4 linked regions of the Homo sapiens genome follow. The protein of the gene in region 1 purifies or fractionates together with the protein of each later gene. This does not show direct contact. Each region holds a gene or a part of one and is shown in the gene's direction. Other genes may lie near its edges.

Region 1 (5,744 bases):
GGCCTTGAATTTAATTAAAAATCTTCACCCATCTGAAGGATACTCTCCATATTTTGACATATATTTCTTTTTAGATTAGTCATGTGATTTGAGATCATTTAGATTTTGGCGTTTTGGCCAAGTCAGTCACAAAATTGATTTGAGAACAATGATTTTTTGGGGGCATTATTTTTCTGTGAGGTTAAAAAAGCCCTTAACTATTTTCTAGACTTCATCAACTATAACTTCAAATAGTAAAATGATGATTAGAGAATTAGGGCATATATGTAATTATGCATTTCAAAGGTAAGTATTTTCTTCATGCTAAAAATCAGAATGGCATTTATGAATGGTCTTAGAGACGTATAACTTCTATATAAAGTCAATGGTTTGTGAAATATTTTCTTGCATTGACACAATATGATTTAGGTTCTAAGAACTACTATTCACTTAATTTTTTTCATTGACAAATAAATGACAGTGCTATTCCTAAAGCTATTCTCTTTGCTGGTTCCTTTTAAAGTGAGTATTAAAAATGTAAAGAATTAAATGATTAATTTGTTTCCAAAATTGACAATATTTTTATCAATAAGAAAAAGCTACAATGTGAAAATTTGTGATCAAATTTAATTCCTGATATTTTTTCTTTTTTTTTTTTTGAGGTTTTAACATTACTTTGCGATGCTTGTCAGAAAGTTTATCTTCGAGTTCCTTCTCATCTTCAGGCTGAAACACTTGTAGGCAAAGGTGAGAAACACTATTAACAGTTTCATAGCTGTAACTTGTCACATTTAGCTGCAGGCTGCTCTTGTAAAGTTTGGGATAAAAACCACATAGTAGGCCGGGCGCGGTGGCTCACGCCTGTAATCCCAGCACTTTGGGAGGCCGAGGCGGGTGGATCATGAGGTCAGGAGATCGAGACCATCCTGGCTAACAAGGTGAAACCCCGTCTCTACTAAAAATACAAAAAATTAGCCGGGCGCGGTGGCGGGCGCCTGTAGTCCCAGCTACTCGGGAGGCTGAGGCAGGAGAATGGCGTGAACCCAAGAGGCGGAGCTTGCAGTGAGCCGAGATTGCGCCACTGCAGTCCGCAGTCCGGCCTGGGCGACAGAGCAAGACTCTGTCTCAAAAAAAAAAAAAAAAACCACATAGTAGCTACTTGAAGTTAAAATCGGATGTACAATAAAAGACAGGCTACTTGTTTTTTGGTAGTGGTTAGAAATAATTAAAATACCAAAGTTAGTTGTATACTTCTCTTGCCAAAAAAATTAGCAAACATCAGAAGGCTCAATTATCTTGGATTACGTCAAACAAAGCAAGGCACCAAAACCAGGAGCATATTCTAATTTGTATAAACTAATCTGCTGCCAAAATTTCAAAGCCAAGATTCTTCAATTGATTAGACATGAAATGGATGTCTCAAAATCTAAATGCCCCCAATAAAATTTGTACTTGAGGTTGATTACAATGAACAAGTATCCACCAAGAATAAATGTGACATATTTCACAGAACAGCTTGTGAAAATCAAATACAGTTTTGGTGGGTCTTAGTACCATAGCCATCTCTGAAGTATAAGTTGGTTGTTCTGAGCCCAAACGTAAAATTTTTTTCATCAAGGTTTTTCACTGGCTTTGCATTCACATGTAAAAAATTACAAACAATACAGAAATGGTATCCTTTCCAAGCCAGATGTTGTTTTGCCCAGTGCTTTAAGGTTTGAAATTAATAAACAGTCCACACTCTAAAGACACATAGTAAATACACTAAATGTGTTAAATATGAATCTGTAAAGGAGGTAATTTGATAATAACCACAGCGCATCGGGTTTACTAAACCTTGAAAGATATTACAGAAAGATTATTTGCAATATTACTGGGAAATATTACTTAAGAATAGACTGGTTTTCTTCTTATTTATTTATTTAGAGACAAAGTCTTGCTCTGTTGCCCAGGCTGAAGTGCAGTGGTGCTATCTCTGCTCACTGCAACCTTCACCTCCCAGGTTCAAGCAATTCTCCTGACTAAGCCTCCTGAGTCGCTGGAATTACAGGTGCACGCCACCATGCTTGGCTAATTTTTGTATTTTTAGTAGAGATGGAGTTTCACCATATTGGCCAGGCTGATCTAGAACTCCCGACCTTGTGATCCTCCCACCTCGGCCTCCCAAACTGCTGGGATTACAGGTGTGAGCCACTTAGTTTTCTTATTTTTGGCAAGATAGTTTTAAGTATCAAACTACTGCAAAAAGTTCAAAACCTACTGACATCATACGGTTATACCACTTATGACATAAAAAATCAAGTTTGTATACACATATATAAATTTATACACACACAATAATTAAGAGTTCAAAGAAAAGAGAATAAAATCAGTGACACTAGGAAAATATTTTATTTCTCAAATTAATGTATGACGAAGGTAGTGGAAAATGTGACTCCATTAATATAATTATTTAATTTTCATGGCCCCCACGTTTTAGAATAGCAGGTGCTGAGCACATTCCAAATGTAACCTCCCTTTTTCTGCTTCTCATGCATTAACTCACGGCTGTCATTCCTGTAAAACTTGTTCCACTCCTGTTTCATCTGACAAACTGCTGTGATATTTCTTCCCTGCAGTGAATCTGGAGGAGTGTCTCAAGTCGGCCAGCCTAATCCGGTCCAGTGACCCTGCCTTCAGAATTCTAGAAGATGGCTCAATTTACACAACACATGACCTCATTTTGTCTTCTGAAAGGAAAAGTTTTTCCATTTTCCTTTCAGATGGTCAGAGACGGGAACAACAAGAGATAAAAGTTGTACTGTCAGCAAGAGAAAACAAGGTATAAGGCAAGGGCTTAAGCAGCCTAGCACAGTAATATGCTTACGGGAGTCCTTCGTGTTTCATGTGTTTTAACGTGTTTCATGTTAAAATCTATGCTATTGAATGACAAATTTGTCTTTTCCACTTACAATTAGTGTAAATAAAGACTAGACTTTTAAGGAGTGGCAGAGCCATTTACAAACTTTTATAAAGATGAATGACTCTGTAGACCAGGAGCAAAGTAAGAATATCAGAGTTTTCTAATAGTGATTTCAAGTTTGGGAATAAGAACAAACCAACCTGAGGAGCAAGGACAAGACAGGGGCGGGTCTAAAACTCAGCGAAATGTGATTCAGGCTGGAGATGTGGGCTCCACCCTGTGCGGCTCTCTTCCCACTGATTGCGGGTTTGAGTCTCTCTTTAAAGAGGAGAAGAGACTGTTTAAAGCTTACTCCCATCTTACTAGAATATTCTATAGGGCAGGCCCTCTCTTCAGAGAGTGGAGGTGTGGCCAATCCACAGAATTGATTTGAATGTTTAACTCTAGGCTCATTTTCTTGCACTGAGCGGTAGAGATCAGTTCAGAAAGCAGGGAGGAAAAAGTTGCTGGAATTCACATCTCATTTTCAGCAAATTCACCACAATGAATTTCGTCTTATAAAACCATTTCTTAATAAATGATTCTATTTAGGAGAGGATTTCCCAACTAAATTCTTTTTGATTGTATGAACTCCTCTTAATATGCTTAAGACTTTAAAAATGTTATTTTATATCCACATTGTAAAATCCCCACATTATATAAAATCAAGTATACTTGAGCAAATGCTGACCTGTGTCTACATAGATGTATAAATGATTGTATTGTGGAGTGAGGGTTTTAACAGATTTTGGTTGTGCCAGTCCTAGTGGAATAAAGTTGATCCTTAAATATTTATTAATGAATTATCTATTTTAGGGGGAGTTTATACTTTCTCAAAGTGGCATCTTTCCAAATGCCCTATACATTTCCTGGTGGTTAACTGAGTAAATAGAGAAATAGGTAGAACGGGGGAACATAATGTAGTCTGAGGTGTGTGTGTGTGTTTTATCAATAGAAATGCTTTGCTGACTAGCCATGATATTGTAATGTGTAACCCTTACATCTGCTTGTTGATGTATGTGTAAAATAATCACAGTTCCAAAAAATGATAAGCAATGCTACATTTCTTTGTTTCTTGTCAAATGTAGTCTCCTAAGAAGAGACATACCAAAGACACAGCCCTCAAGCGCAGCAAGAGACGATGGGCTCCTATTCCAGCTTCATTGATGGAGAACTCGTTGGGTCCATTTCCACAACACGTTCAGCAGGTGCATTTCACTTATTTGATTTTATATGTGTCCAAATTTTTTTTTGTTCTTAAACTTTTCATTTGAATTGCACAGCATATTGAATCAGAGGTTTAAACTAATGGTACAAATAATGATCATCTATTCACCAGAACTAGGGTCCCATAGAAGTGACCCAGTATATCTTATTACTTTCTTACAGATATCATATTTAGAAATTTAGAAACAAGTTTTATATTTGGAGTTTCTGGTGCTCTTAGGTCTATGTCTAAATTCACCCAAATACTATGCTAGACTTGTTAACACTAATGTACAGAAGGCACACCTACATGTTTTGCATAGTTCAATTCTTGCTTAAACTAACACTCATCTTTTATAAAAATGACCTGTATTTCTGCTTACCAAGTAAGATTGCCTCACTGCCACATAGCTGGATTGCAAACATAGAACAGTTTTGAAATTTTGGAGTATAGTGGCATCAGCTCAGCTCACCGCAACCTCTGCCTCCTGGGTTCAAGCGATTCTCCTGCCTCAACCTCCCGAGTTGCTGGGATTACGGACACCCACCACGAAGCCCAGCTAATTTTTGTATTTTTAGTAGAGGCAAGGTTTCGCCATGTTGACCAGTTTGGTCTTGAACTCCTGATCTCAGGTGATTCACCTGCCTAGGCCTCCCAAAGTGCTGGGATTACAGGTGTGAGCCACTGCGCCCGGCCAAAATTTTCTAATTCTTGAGGAATTAATTGTGGAAGAAAAGTTGCTTTACTTCTAGTTTTATTATCACATAATTTTCAATTCCAAAGAATTCAAAATCACGGAAACTGTTACTATTATTTATATGAAGATAAGAATAAATAGATAAAACTTGAAAAGTGTATTACTCTACATGTTTTATAGATATACAAATGACAAAAAAGTTGAGATCAAATAAGTGACAGAATTTGTGGCTTTGCACAATGCAAAATGCAAATAAAAATTCGGAAAACATGGCAGATAATGGGCACCTAAGCAGAAGAAAGAAAGAATAGGAGAGTAGGAAAGAGGGGTAGTGGTAAAAAAATAAACCATCACAAGAGGTTAGGTTGAAAATATTCATCATGACGTATTTGTTCTATTCCTAAATTATTACTGCAGATCCAATCTGATGCTGCACAGAATTACACCATCTTTTATTCCATAAGTGGGCCAGGCGTGGACAAAGAACCCTTCAATTTGTTTTACATAGAGAAAGACACTGGGGATATCTTTTGTACAAGGAGCATTGACCGTGAGAAATATGAACAGTTTGCGGTAGGATTATTGAAATATTTATTCATAATTATATCTTTATTACTGGCTTACTAATATTTTCAACTATGCTTGTTTACATATTATAAGAATCAATTATTTGATTTAATATTCAAGATATTAATATGCAATATAAACTTTAAATTTCTATTCACCATTGATGGGGAAAAACAGTGGATATAATAAGGGAAGTGGCGGGGGAGGTAAAGAAAATATAACGATGGAATTTTAAAGGATATATTTTGGTCTGTAATCCTGGAGAAATAACAAAGAGTTTTACTGAATTTAAAGTTATCCATAATAAAATGACTCAGTTATTCTCAACCATGGCTGTACATTATAAGTCATGT
Region 2 (3,500 bases), on another chromosome or scaffold:
TAGCTTAGAATGTATGCCCTTTTCCTCTCTGGAAATTATTTAAAGAGCAGTTATAAATATCTCTTGGTAAATGTGCCCAATTTACAAAATCTCTTTCTAATGTGACTATTTTTAGAAATTTATTTCAGTTATTCAGTTCTTTTATAAGAGAGAATATTATCTTAGGATTTTAAAGCCTTCTGAATTTTTTTTTAAGAACAAGAGTAATAATATCACTGAAGAAGTACATCAACATATAACATTAATAACATTAGTTATATATAATGTTATTAATATGTTATATGTATAACATTAATTATATATATTTACTTATATATATAACATTTTATGTATGACATATGTTATATATGTTATTAATAGTTATATGTATAACATGTTATTAATAGGTATATATAACATATATAATATATAGTTATATATATAACTATAACATATTAATAGTTACATATATAACTATTATTTGCTTTTATAGGTTTGTTTAATCCAGAAAATCATTGGACAGTCGTTGAGGAACTTCTATATCCAAGATAGTAGTAGGGACCAGAAAGATATTTAAATATCTAAATATTCTGGCCCCTGCCCTCAAATCTAGTGAATAAAGACATGGTGTATATAGGAGAACTTTCAAATGTATAATTGTTTTACCTGAATTGAATGTCAGTAGCTAATTTGCATATACATAAACTTTTTATTGGTGATTACCATATACACATAATGAAGACTTCCTTCTTCTTTTGTTCCCTTTCATTAGTTGATATCTAGTATATTCATGTGAGAAAGTTTTACCATCTTTTTAAAGATAATAATGAGGTTAACTGAATGAATATAGTAGTGATCCATACCTATCCTCTCTAGCATTTTTTGATATATGAGAAAATCACTTTACCAATTGCTGTTATTTTAATATCACAATAATTGGGTTAATTGCTGTTTACAGGTGATTTCTAGCTTGTCTCATGCCATAGGCAAGCAAAAGGAAAAGATAGAGTTGATGAGAACATTCTTCCACTGGCGAATCGGCCATGTCAGAGCCAGACAGGATGTAAGTGTCAAAGCAGAAGACAGCTGATGGATGTTAGACTTCTGAATTCAGAAGTGCTCAGGATCACTTATTATAGTTGTTTTCTAATAAGTCAAAATGAATTTGTGATTTAATGTTCCTCTTATTTCAAAGGAATTTGATTTTGATGTAGTTTGGAAAAAATACAGTTTAGATCTTATTGACATATAATATATATATATTACAATAGATACATCATTTCCTGCTTCATAGTAGGTTAATAAGGATTGTTCCTAAATTGTAAAGGCCCTGGTAATAGAACCCCCTCAGATGTGGTTATTGGAGAAAGAAGTTATGTTTAACATATCAAATGCTTCCTATATTGTTTCTACTTTTAAAATGCCTGAATACAACTTATTCATAAAGAGGCTTTACTATATTTATACATTAAATCACAGTATAAATGTTTGTTATGTAGACTTGCCTTAGAGTGAGAGTCAGAGAAAGCCATACCTGTACAGCTTTTTAAAAGTTATCCTTAGCTTGTAGTATATCATTTAAACTTGAACATCTTTTATTTTAAGTAAGAGCTGAGTTGGTATATCAGTAAATAGTGAACTGAAAGAGAATACTAAATTGTTGTATCAAAAGTGGAAAAGTATGAGTATATCCCACAACAAGACATAGTTTAGAGACACATGAATATAGGAGATGAATATATATATATATGCTTTCCATGTATATTCATGTGAGCTATGGAATAATCTCTGTGTATTTAGTTTCCAAGAGATTAGTATTTAAGGAAAAAGCTAGTACAGGTTGAGTATCCCTTATCCAAAATGTTTGGCACCAGGAGAATTTTGGATTTTAGATTATGTTTCATATCACACCTTATGCACAAAATTCATTTATGTTTCATATTTCACCTTATACATATAGCCTAAGGTAATTGTATACAATATTTTTAATAATTTTATGCATGAAACAAAGTTTGTGTTAAGTACTTCTGTGTGGAATTTTTCACTTGTGGTGTCATGCTGACACTCAAAAAGTTTCAGATTTTTGGATTAGAGATGCTCAACCTACTTTATCCTGGAATAAGATTTCTCCTTTAAGAATACTTTCTGGATTTTTCATTTTTTTAATTAATCCCAGTAGATTAAATCCACATTAAGTAAGCTGGTTAAAATGAATATTTATACTCTACTTTGAAACTTGTCAAGTGAAATAATGAGAATACATATTTATTTTTAAATGTTAGCCAGAATAGTTGAGGCTACTGTCACTTTTGGATAGTTTTTCAAACTGAAGAAATTGAGAATTGGAACTACTTCTTCAAAAGAATTTAAATTCATTGATAAAAGAAAAATAGCATAAGTTTTTATTTGGATTGGCACCATATATGATGGCAGGGTTTATAAATTAAATCTTGCTTGTGGTGGCCATCAAACTGAAGAGAAAGCAGTGTCATCTGAAGCCACAGCCACCACCATTTCCTGCCTTCTAGCCACTCTGTTATTCTCCTGGTCCTGCTAAATTCATAACTAAGATGGCAAGTGGTGATTTGCTCATTTTCTTTCATTTGGTTGTATTCTTTTTCTCTAACTTGATTAGTTGCATAAAGCAATGATGTAATGGATAAGAGCTCAGTCTCTGGAGTCAGGCAAGTCTGGCTTTACTCATCTACTTATGTGAACTACGTAGCTTGCTTAACCTCTCTAAGCCTGTTCTCCTATATGCAAGATGAGAATAATATGATTACATAGAATTAAATAATGTGTATATGTACACTTACCACCATGTTATGTTTATTATTACTACCAATATATTTATCAATCAACTGTGTTTTTGAAGTTATATTTTACTTTTATTTAGGTTTATGAAGGTAAACTAGCTGACCAGTACTACCAGAGAACTTTACTGAAGAAAGTCTGGAAAGTCTGGCGTTCCGTAGTGCAAAAGCAGTGGAAAGATGTGGTAGAAAGAGCTTGTCAAGCAAGAGCTGAAGAAGTTTGTATCCAGATTTCCAATGATTATGAAGCCAAAGTTGCTATGGTAAGCATCTTTTTCTGGTTTTCACTTTCTTCTAATACAATAAAAAGATAGATAGACTCACTATTAATTAATAGACTTCTTCTTTTGGTCTTTAATCAAGAATGCAGACAAAAAAATGAAAACGTTTATTCTTGTGTTAATTTAATGTTTATTGTATATTCTTACATGGTTGATATAAGGAGTTGTATAGAAATTGAAATTATTAGTTGGGCGCGGTGCCTCACTCCTGTAGACCCAGCACTTTGGGAGGCCGAGGCGGGCAGATCACCTGAGTCAGGAGTTTGAGACCAGCCTGGTCAACATGGTGAAACCCCGTCTCTACTAAAAAAATTAGCTGGGTATGGTGGCACATGCCTATAATACCCGCTACTCGGGAGGCTGAGGCAGGATAATCTTTTGAACCTGGGAGGCAGAAGTTGCAGTGAGCTATATCACACTGTTGCAC
Region 3 (3,500 bases), on another chromosome or scaffold:
TGTAGCGGACTGTCACTTGACCCCTGAATGTGCCTCATGACCCTATCCAAAGCAGTTGGTGACACAGCATCTGATTTTATCTATACTCTTGTTCATTGACAAAGGAGTGGATTTTGATGAGCTACATTTTGCTGTTTCCTTTTTTGGCTTTGCCTGTGATGTGGGGAAGTTCCTAGGCAGACTCATGTGGCCACTCTCCCTGGCTCCCAGCCTCACCTCCTCCCGTACCACCTCACCCTCACCTGCACACACCTGCAAGGGAATCACTTTGAACTCCAAGGGGAGTGACAGGCAGCAAATGTCAGTCTGGGTCCTGGAATGTGGAGCCGCAGTGAACCTCTGTCCTCTCTGGTCAGTGCCTGACTATGATATTAACCCAAATCCCAGACTCCCTTCTCGAGGCCCTGCAATCCATACCCATTCTGTTACCAGTTTAGTTTTGAAACCAGTAGTGGGGCAGGAGGTTGATGGAAAATCTGCGGTCCCAGTGACCTCCTGGACTTGTCTTAGTAGTGCCTGGCACATAGTAAGTGCTCAAGAAATGTTTACAGAATGCAGACAGAGAGGTTTGCTGGGTAAGAGTAAGACCCTGGCACAGGGAGTTAGAAGGGCACCATTGGCAGGGCTGGATGGTATTGGGATTCCCCTTTGCCAGACCATGTTGTGGGTGCCATATCAACCCCAATGAGTTTGTTTGTTAGGTTTGTTGTTGTGGTTTAGAGTTAGAGTCTTGCTCTGTCACCCAGGCTGGAGTACAGCGTGATCATAGCTCACTGCAGCCTCGAACTCCTGGCCACAAGCAATCCTCCCACCTTAGCCTCTCAAGTTGCTGGTACTACAGGTGCACACCATCATGCCTGGCTAATTTTTTATTTGTTGTACAGACAGGGTCTTGCTATGTTGCCCGCGCTGGTCTTGAACTCCTGGTCTCAAGCAATCCCCCTGCTTCAGCCTCCCAAAGCACTGGGATTACAGGGCTAAGCCATTGTGCTGAGCCAGTTTGCCAGGTTTAATATCTGTGACGTATGAAGCGACCCATTGAGTCAGGTGGCCCAGGATGTCTAGGAGGCAGAGTAACAATCCACCCTGAACAGCCCTCATTCACAGAGCACTTACTACGTGCCAGGCTGGAATTCCTATGATGGTTTGGGGAGATCAGTAGTCTTATTCTCGTTCCAATGGGGCAACTGTGGTACAGGGACAGAAACCAGCCTCCAAATTGCAGACCCAGCATTTTAAAAACGAGTCTTTGGGCTCATCCATTCCCAGGAACCCACCTCCAGGTCAAGGGGTTCATGTCCAGCTGCTCATGGGGATGTTACAATCCCAGCCTCTGAGACTTATTGGCAACTTGGAACCAGGAAAGAGAGAGAGGAAAAGCAGGAAGTTGTGGAAGGGAGGGTGCAGGGGCTGGCAGGGACCATACTGGGAGTTTGCACGGAAGCTTGAACTTATGTTCTCAAACTGACAGGCTGCCAGCAGCAGCCCGGATTTCCAGGAAATGTACATCTGGGTTGGCAGAGTCCCTCCTGGGTCCCTCCAGTATCCCTGCTCCAGGCTTCCTATCCCCTCCGTCTCTCCTGCTGGATGTTGCACTGTGGTCCCGTGTTCCTGAGAGGCGTACATCAGTGAGTGCTCTTCCCTCTCAGGGGTGGGAAAGGGCCCTTCCTTCCCACTCATTGGGATCATGCAGCTCCCATTTCCTAACACCAAGAATATGAAGGATTCATCTCATGGGGTTGAGAATGGCTGTCCTCCTTCCACTGAGGACTGAGCTGGAGGAGATGGACTCTGTCTAGAATGTGCCTGATCTAAATAAGACCTTGTTTCCCAAGCATGTCCCATAGACCTTTCATTCCATGGAAAACTCGCCGGATTTGCATTATTGAAAGGGTCCTGGGACAAGCATGCATTGGAAATGCTTAGGTAAAATGAAACTAATTTCTTGATTGCAGGACTTATCAGAACTTTTAAGACACTATTGTGTGGTTGAATCTCTAAATGCCTGATAGGAGGCTGTTCTTCCCAAGCTTTCCCAGGCTTGTTTCTGAATCTCCAACAAGGTCAACCTCTGTGAATGAGACTTGATACCTTACCTGGTACTGAAGGAGGCAATGTCAATGTACTGGCCCACAGAAAAGAGCTGACCACTAGCATTCATAGACACTGCTAGGAGATGAGAAAGGTAGCTTAGAGCCCGATTCCATCCATGTGGACAGTGGTTCCATGAACAAGAACACCACATCTGGCTGATGGTGTCTTCCAATGGAGGGGTCAAATCTGCTGTGTGTTGGTGGCTTCTCCAACATACCATGGCTTGGAGGCCAATGTGAAAAGTATATAAGATGTAACACCCTCAGAAGGGTTAAGTTTTCACCTGAGTTTTCATCTTCAACCAAGTCATTGGGATGGTGATCTAGAAGGACCTCTAAGATCTAGAAGGATAAAGATCTGGTCCAAGGAGTACAAATATGTAATGGATCTACCACCAGTGTCCCCTGCTGTACTCTTGGCAGACATCACTAATCCATCACAGCATGCCTTCCCACTGATCACAGATGTAGCTTCAGGGCATTCGAGTTACCACTTAAGATGGATATGAGTGACCCTCCCTTATCTCACTCTTCTCCTTTCACAGAAGCAGGATCTGAGGCCCAGAGAGGGAAGCTATAATAAACTCCCCTAAGTCAGGTCCCTTCTAAGAGGCAGAGGTAGGTTTAGAACTCAGGCCTCAGAAACTTCCAGAAGCCAAGCCATTTGGGCTGTAGTTGGTGGACAGTCTATCAGCGCTCTGCAGATGTTTCTTCTCAGTTAGGGAACTTGGAAAATGCAGAAAGAAAGATTCTGTCTCTAAGACTCTGTGTATGATCCTACTCGGTAATCTGCCTGCTTGGAGAAAAATCATTTATCTTCTGGGACGGCTTCACCACAAGGCCTGAATGCTATGCCCAGTCTAGTAACAGCTGGGCTGGAAGTCACGGCATATGGGGGCCTTAAGGAATAACAGTGTGCGTGGTGGTGTGCAGGAGAGCTGCAAGGGCTTTTCTTTCTTGAGGAGGTTTGTAAAATTTCTGCTGTTCAGTCTGGGCTTCTGGGAAGTCAGGGGGTGCTGCATATAAAGGGCAGGAAAAGGAGCCTGACTCCAATTGCTCTTTGGTTTCTTCCCTGAATGGAAGGCTCAAAATCAAGTTTCCACCCAGATAAGATCTTGAGGTCCTAGTGGACCACCAGCTCTACTCCTGAGCTCTTGAAATACCTCTAATCACCAGCTCGGTGGCTGAGAGTACCTTCTTGTCCACTGCCTCTTCTTTTCCTTCTCGTCTTCACTTATCCCCCATCCAACTTCTGCCCGATAATATCTCCCCTGTATTGTAAACTGAGGAGAAAGTTGCACAATTGTAGAGATGAAAAATAGCTGCCATGTATTTAGCTTAAATTAGCTCAGAAGAAAGGCTCCCTCCCTCCATTGAGCGGGCAGCACTTGTTTATGCCAACATGCT
Region 4 (3,500 bases), on another chromosome or scaffold:
TTGTACATAAATGAAATCATACTATATATACTATTGTGGAACCTGATTTATAATTAAAAATATAAAGTATTAGATTTTTTCCAGTAACTATAAATCCATATTATCATTTTTAATGGTTGTATAATAATCCATTGTATCCATACCCACTAAGTAAGGAAAAGATGATGGTTATTTGAGGATAACCAGTTAGTCTAGAAATTCTCTTATTAAAATTCGAATGTTTGAGTATCTCTATTAGTAAGTAGTAGAGTAAGTCAGGTTTTTTGTGGTTTCTTTTCTCTTCTCAGTGTTAGTATAGACACCATTGCTTGAATAGCAGCTGTTGTCTCTCCTTCCCCCTAGGAAGTTTGGAGTAACTGTCCTCTAGCTTCAAAGCAAACGACCTTCCTATTTAGTGGTGACATGGGAGAGCAGTAGCAGCCCTAATTAAACCTTACAGCCCTGGACAGTGCTCACAGTGTGCAATTTTGAGGATTCTCTGTGTGGTACAATATGTAAATGACTCTTAAGAGGCTTACAGGGAATAGCAAATGGATGCAAAATTTTATTAAGATCTTTCTGCTCCATTGGCAAATAAATTAGAAATGCTTTTGGTTGCTTTATTACAGTAATACCCTATGCAATTTTGCTTACTAATCAGCAGAGATTATCTCTAACATAATAATTACTCAATAACTAATGTTGTTTATCTAGTATACTACATTTTGGGAGACAGTTACTAGATTATGAATATCTTAGCTGCCAAATACACTTGGACATTAATTTATTCTAGGGACTTAGCTTCATGAGAATGTTTCAATTGCATAGAAATAATCTATCTGTTCTGTTTTTAAAGAAAATCTTCTTTCACAGAAAGAGCTATCTGTTTTTATGTTGACAGTGTAAACTATATCTAATTTATTCTTGTATTGACAGTTACACTTTTTTTTTGCTTTTTTATGCTTTAATGTTCTTCATTAATAAGTATTTGGAAATATACATGAAATATACCAAGATAAACAGGCTGTATCTTGTTATACATACCAAAGGCTAGCCTAACCCATGATACTTTCATGGCAGGTTTTTGAGATGGATATTTCTAAGCAGTTGCATGCCTATGAGGTGGAATATCATGTGCTACAGGATGAGCTTCAGGAATCTTCATATTCCTGTGAGGATAGTGAAACTTTGGAGAAGCTGGAGAGGGCCAATAGCCAACTGAAAAGACAAAACATGGACCTCCTAGAAAAATTACAGGTAAAGAAATAAAGATTTGAGCAAATAAGTACTTCAATGCCTCCTGCATGCACAGAACTACCTCAGGAATGAAAGGGATATGTGCGTGGAATGAACCATTGCTAACCAAGAGCCCATGTATCAGACTGTCCAAGTGCTCTGGGGCTACAAATGACATGTTAAATTAAACATTACTTGGAAAAAAATGCACCCTCACAAAATAGCTAAATGGCAGTTCAAAGTGGAATCTGCTTAAATACCTGTTGCATGTTATAGATATTTGGTTAAATTAAAGGGAGGAGGAATTGAATGTAGGAAATTGATGAAGTTGTGAAGGACCTGGGCTTGAGCTGGAATCTGGAGGGTTGGTGGAAGAAATGAGTGAGGAGGGTCTTTAAGTCAGGCTGAGTAGGAGGGTGGCATCAATCAGAAGGACATGGCAGAGCAGCAAAGTTAGCCTAGTGTCAATTTAAGATAGAGGTTGGGGAGAGGTAGGGTAAATATGATAGAGGCAGAATCGTAAGTGACTTTCAGTGTCAAGCCAAAGAACATGGCTTTAATCCTGTCAAGAGGGAAATCTCTCAAAGTTTTTGGGCCATGCTGTAGAAAGATCAATCTGGGAACCTTGACGAGGACAGATTGAGATGGGAGAGAAGGTAAGGAGGCCTGCTAAAAGTCACTTGTGAAAATCTGTTGCGGATGATGAGAGTTGTCTAGACTAAAATGGAAATTGGAAGAGAGGGAGACATGTCTAGGTAAATTGAATCCCATGCAAATGTTACATGTAATATTAATACATCATTCCTGCCATCAGGGAGTTCACAATTATTTGAGAATATAAAATACTATATATCTGTCTCTAAGCGCACACTTATACATGCAATAAGAAATTTATTATAAAGTCATATTCGGTATTTGCAACTTGTATGATGTGTGCTATGTAGCCATGCCCTGAGGGGAGGGGCTTAAGAGTGATCACAGGATGGGGGCTAGCAGGTGACCCTTCTGAAGTCTTCGGGGAGATGACTTCAGGGGAGTTTCAGTGTCTAATGGCTCCTCGGTTTCCACTTACTCCTCCTCTCCATTTCCCCAACACTGCACCTGGCTACAAACTGGAAAACACTAAAACTCTGCTTCTATATGGTGAGTCCCCTGTCAAGACCAGTCAAGAGAGACAGGTTAGAAATGAGGGATCTCTAAAGTAGTTGCTTCCCAAGAATGGGAACACTAAACTTCCTTCGCTTTGTCTTACATTGGCTCTGGCTCATAGAAAATGTAAATCTTTTTTTCTATTCAAAAAAGGGCAACATACTCTATTTTCAAAAAGAAAACTAAATGGTTAGTATATTGTCCATTTTTAGTTGGATAGGTCAATGGCGATTAATTATTTGCCCCTTATTAGGGAAGGTGGGTTTGTACCTGTTTTATAATGATTCGTCTGAACTGTTGTAGACTTTTTCACTGACAGTTCAGTGTAGTCATCATCAGTTACTTGGCCACCCCTCACATCTATAAATACTGATGAAAGCCCAAGTGTATGTTTAGAGAACGCCGTATTTCAGTCAGAGAAGGAAAATCTCTTTTAGCACTGCAATAGTGTCAGGAATCTCCTGTTTCTCCTTCAGCCAGGCCAGATCCCACTCACTCAGGGGAACACCAGTGGGTGTAGAATAAGGATTCCTACTGTTGGTGAGGGGGGTGATTTAGTATTGAATTATTCGTGTGTTCAGTGAGAAGAGATGAAGCATGGTAGTTCCATAGTTACATCTTTGTGAAACCTAATAAATCATCGTTTCCTGTAGGTTTTCAGAGTATTTGCTTCACATAATATTTTATTAAGTAATTTGAAGTAATTGGTTAATATGTGTAAGGACTGTCTCCTACTATAATGAATCATTTGATTTGGAGGATTTTTTCCCCCCCAAACAGGTAGCTCATACTAAAATCCAGGCCTTGGAATCAAACCTGGAAAATCTTTTGACGAGAGAGACCAAAATGAAGTCTTTAATCCGGACCCTGGAACAAGAAAAAATGGCTTATCAAAAGACAGTGGAGCAACTCCGGAAGCTGCTGCCCGCGGATGCTCTAGTCAATTGTGACCTGTTGCTGAGAGACCTAAACTGCAACCCTAACAACAAAGCCAAGATAGGAAATAAGCCATAATTGAAGAGGCACGGCCTCAGCAGAAAGTGCTCCTTAGAATACTACAGAGAGGAAGAGCCTGCATGTCGCTGGCCCAAGGCTGGACCCTGAAGCTGATGGAACCACCTAATACTGGTGCTGAG

Evidence for each region.
Region 2: the proteins of DSC1 (region 1) and POC5 purify together in Homo sapiens (co-immunoprecipitation; one large-scale study listed by IntAct). This does not show direct contact.
Region 3: the proteins of DSC1 (region 1) and KSR2 purify together in Homo sapiens (co-immunoprecipitation; one large-scale study listed by IntAct). This does not show direct contact.
Region 4: the proteins of DSC1 (region 1) and TBC1D4 purify together in Homo sapiens (affinity purification with mass spectrometry; one large-scale study listed by BioGRID and IntAct). This does not show direct contact.

What each region holds. Positions count from the first base shown.
Region 1 is NC_000018.10:31,154,427-31,160,170, reverse strand, and holds part of DSC1 (desmocollin-1 isoform Dsc1a preproprotein), read left to right. Parts: intron 1-641; coding exon 642-726; intron 727-2,597; coding exon 2,598-2,800; intron 2,801-4,008; coding exon 4,009-4,128; intron 4,129-5,241; coding exon 5,242-5,397; intron 5,398-5,744. UniProt on the Homo sapiens protein: A component of desmosome cell-cell junctions which are required for positive regulation of cellular adhesion.
Region 2 is NC_000005.10:75,689,938-75,693,437, reverse strand, and holds part of POC5 (centrosomal protein POC5), read left to right. Parts: intron 1-937; coding exon 938-1,042; intron 1,043-2,875; coding exon 2,876-3,055; intron 3,056-3,500. UniProt on the Homo sapiens protein: Essential for the assembly of the distal half of centrioles, required for centriole elongation. Acts as a negative regulator of centriole elongation.
Region 3 is NC_000012.12:117,458,491-117,461,990, reverse strand, and holds part of KSR2 (kinase suppressor of Ras 2), read left to right. Parts: 3' UTR 1-3,500. UniProt on the Homo sapiens protein: Location-regulated scaffold connecting MEK to RAF. Has very low protein kinase activity and can phosphorylate MAP2K1 at several Ser and Thr residues with very low efficiency (in vitro).
Region 4 is NC_000013.11:75,286,670-75,290,169, reverse strand, and holds part of TBC1D4 (TBC1 domain family member 4), read left to right. Parts: intron 1-1,059; coding exon 1,060-1,236; intron 1,237-3,144; coding exon 3,145-3,378; 3' UTR 3,379-3,500.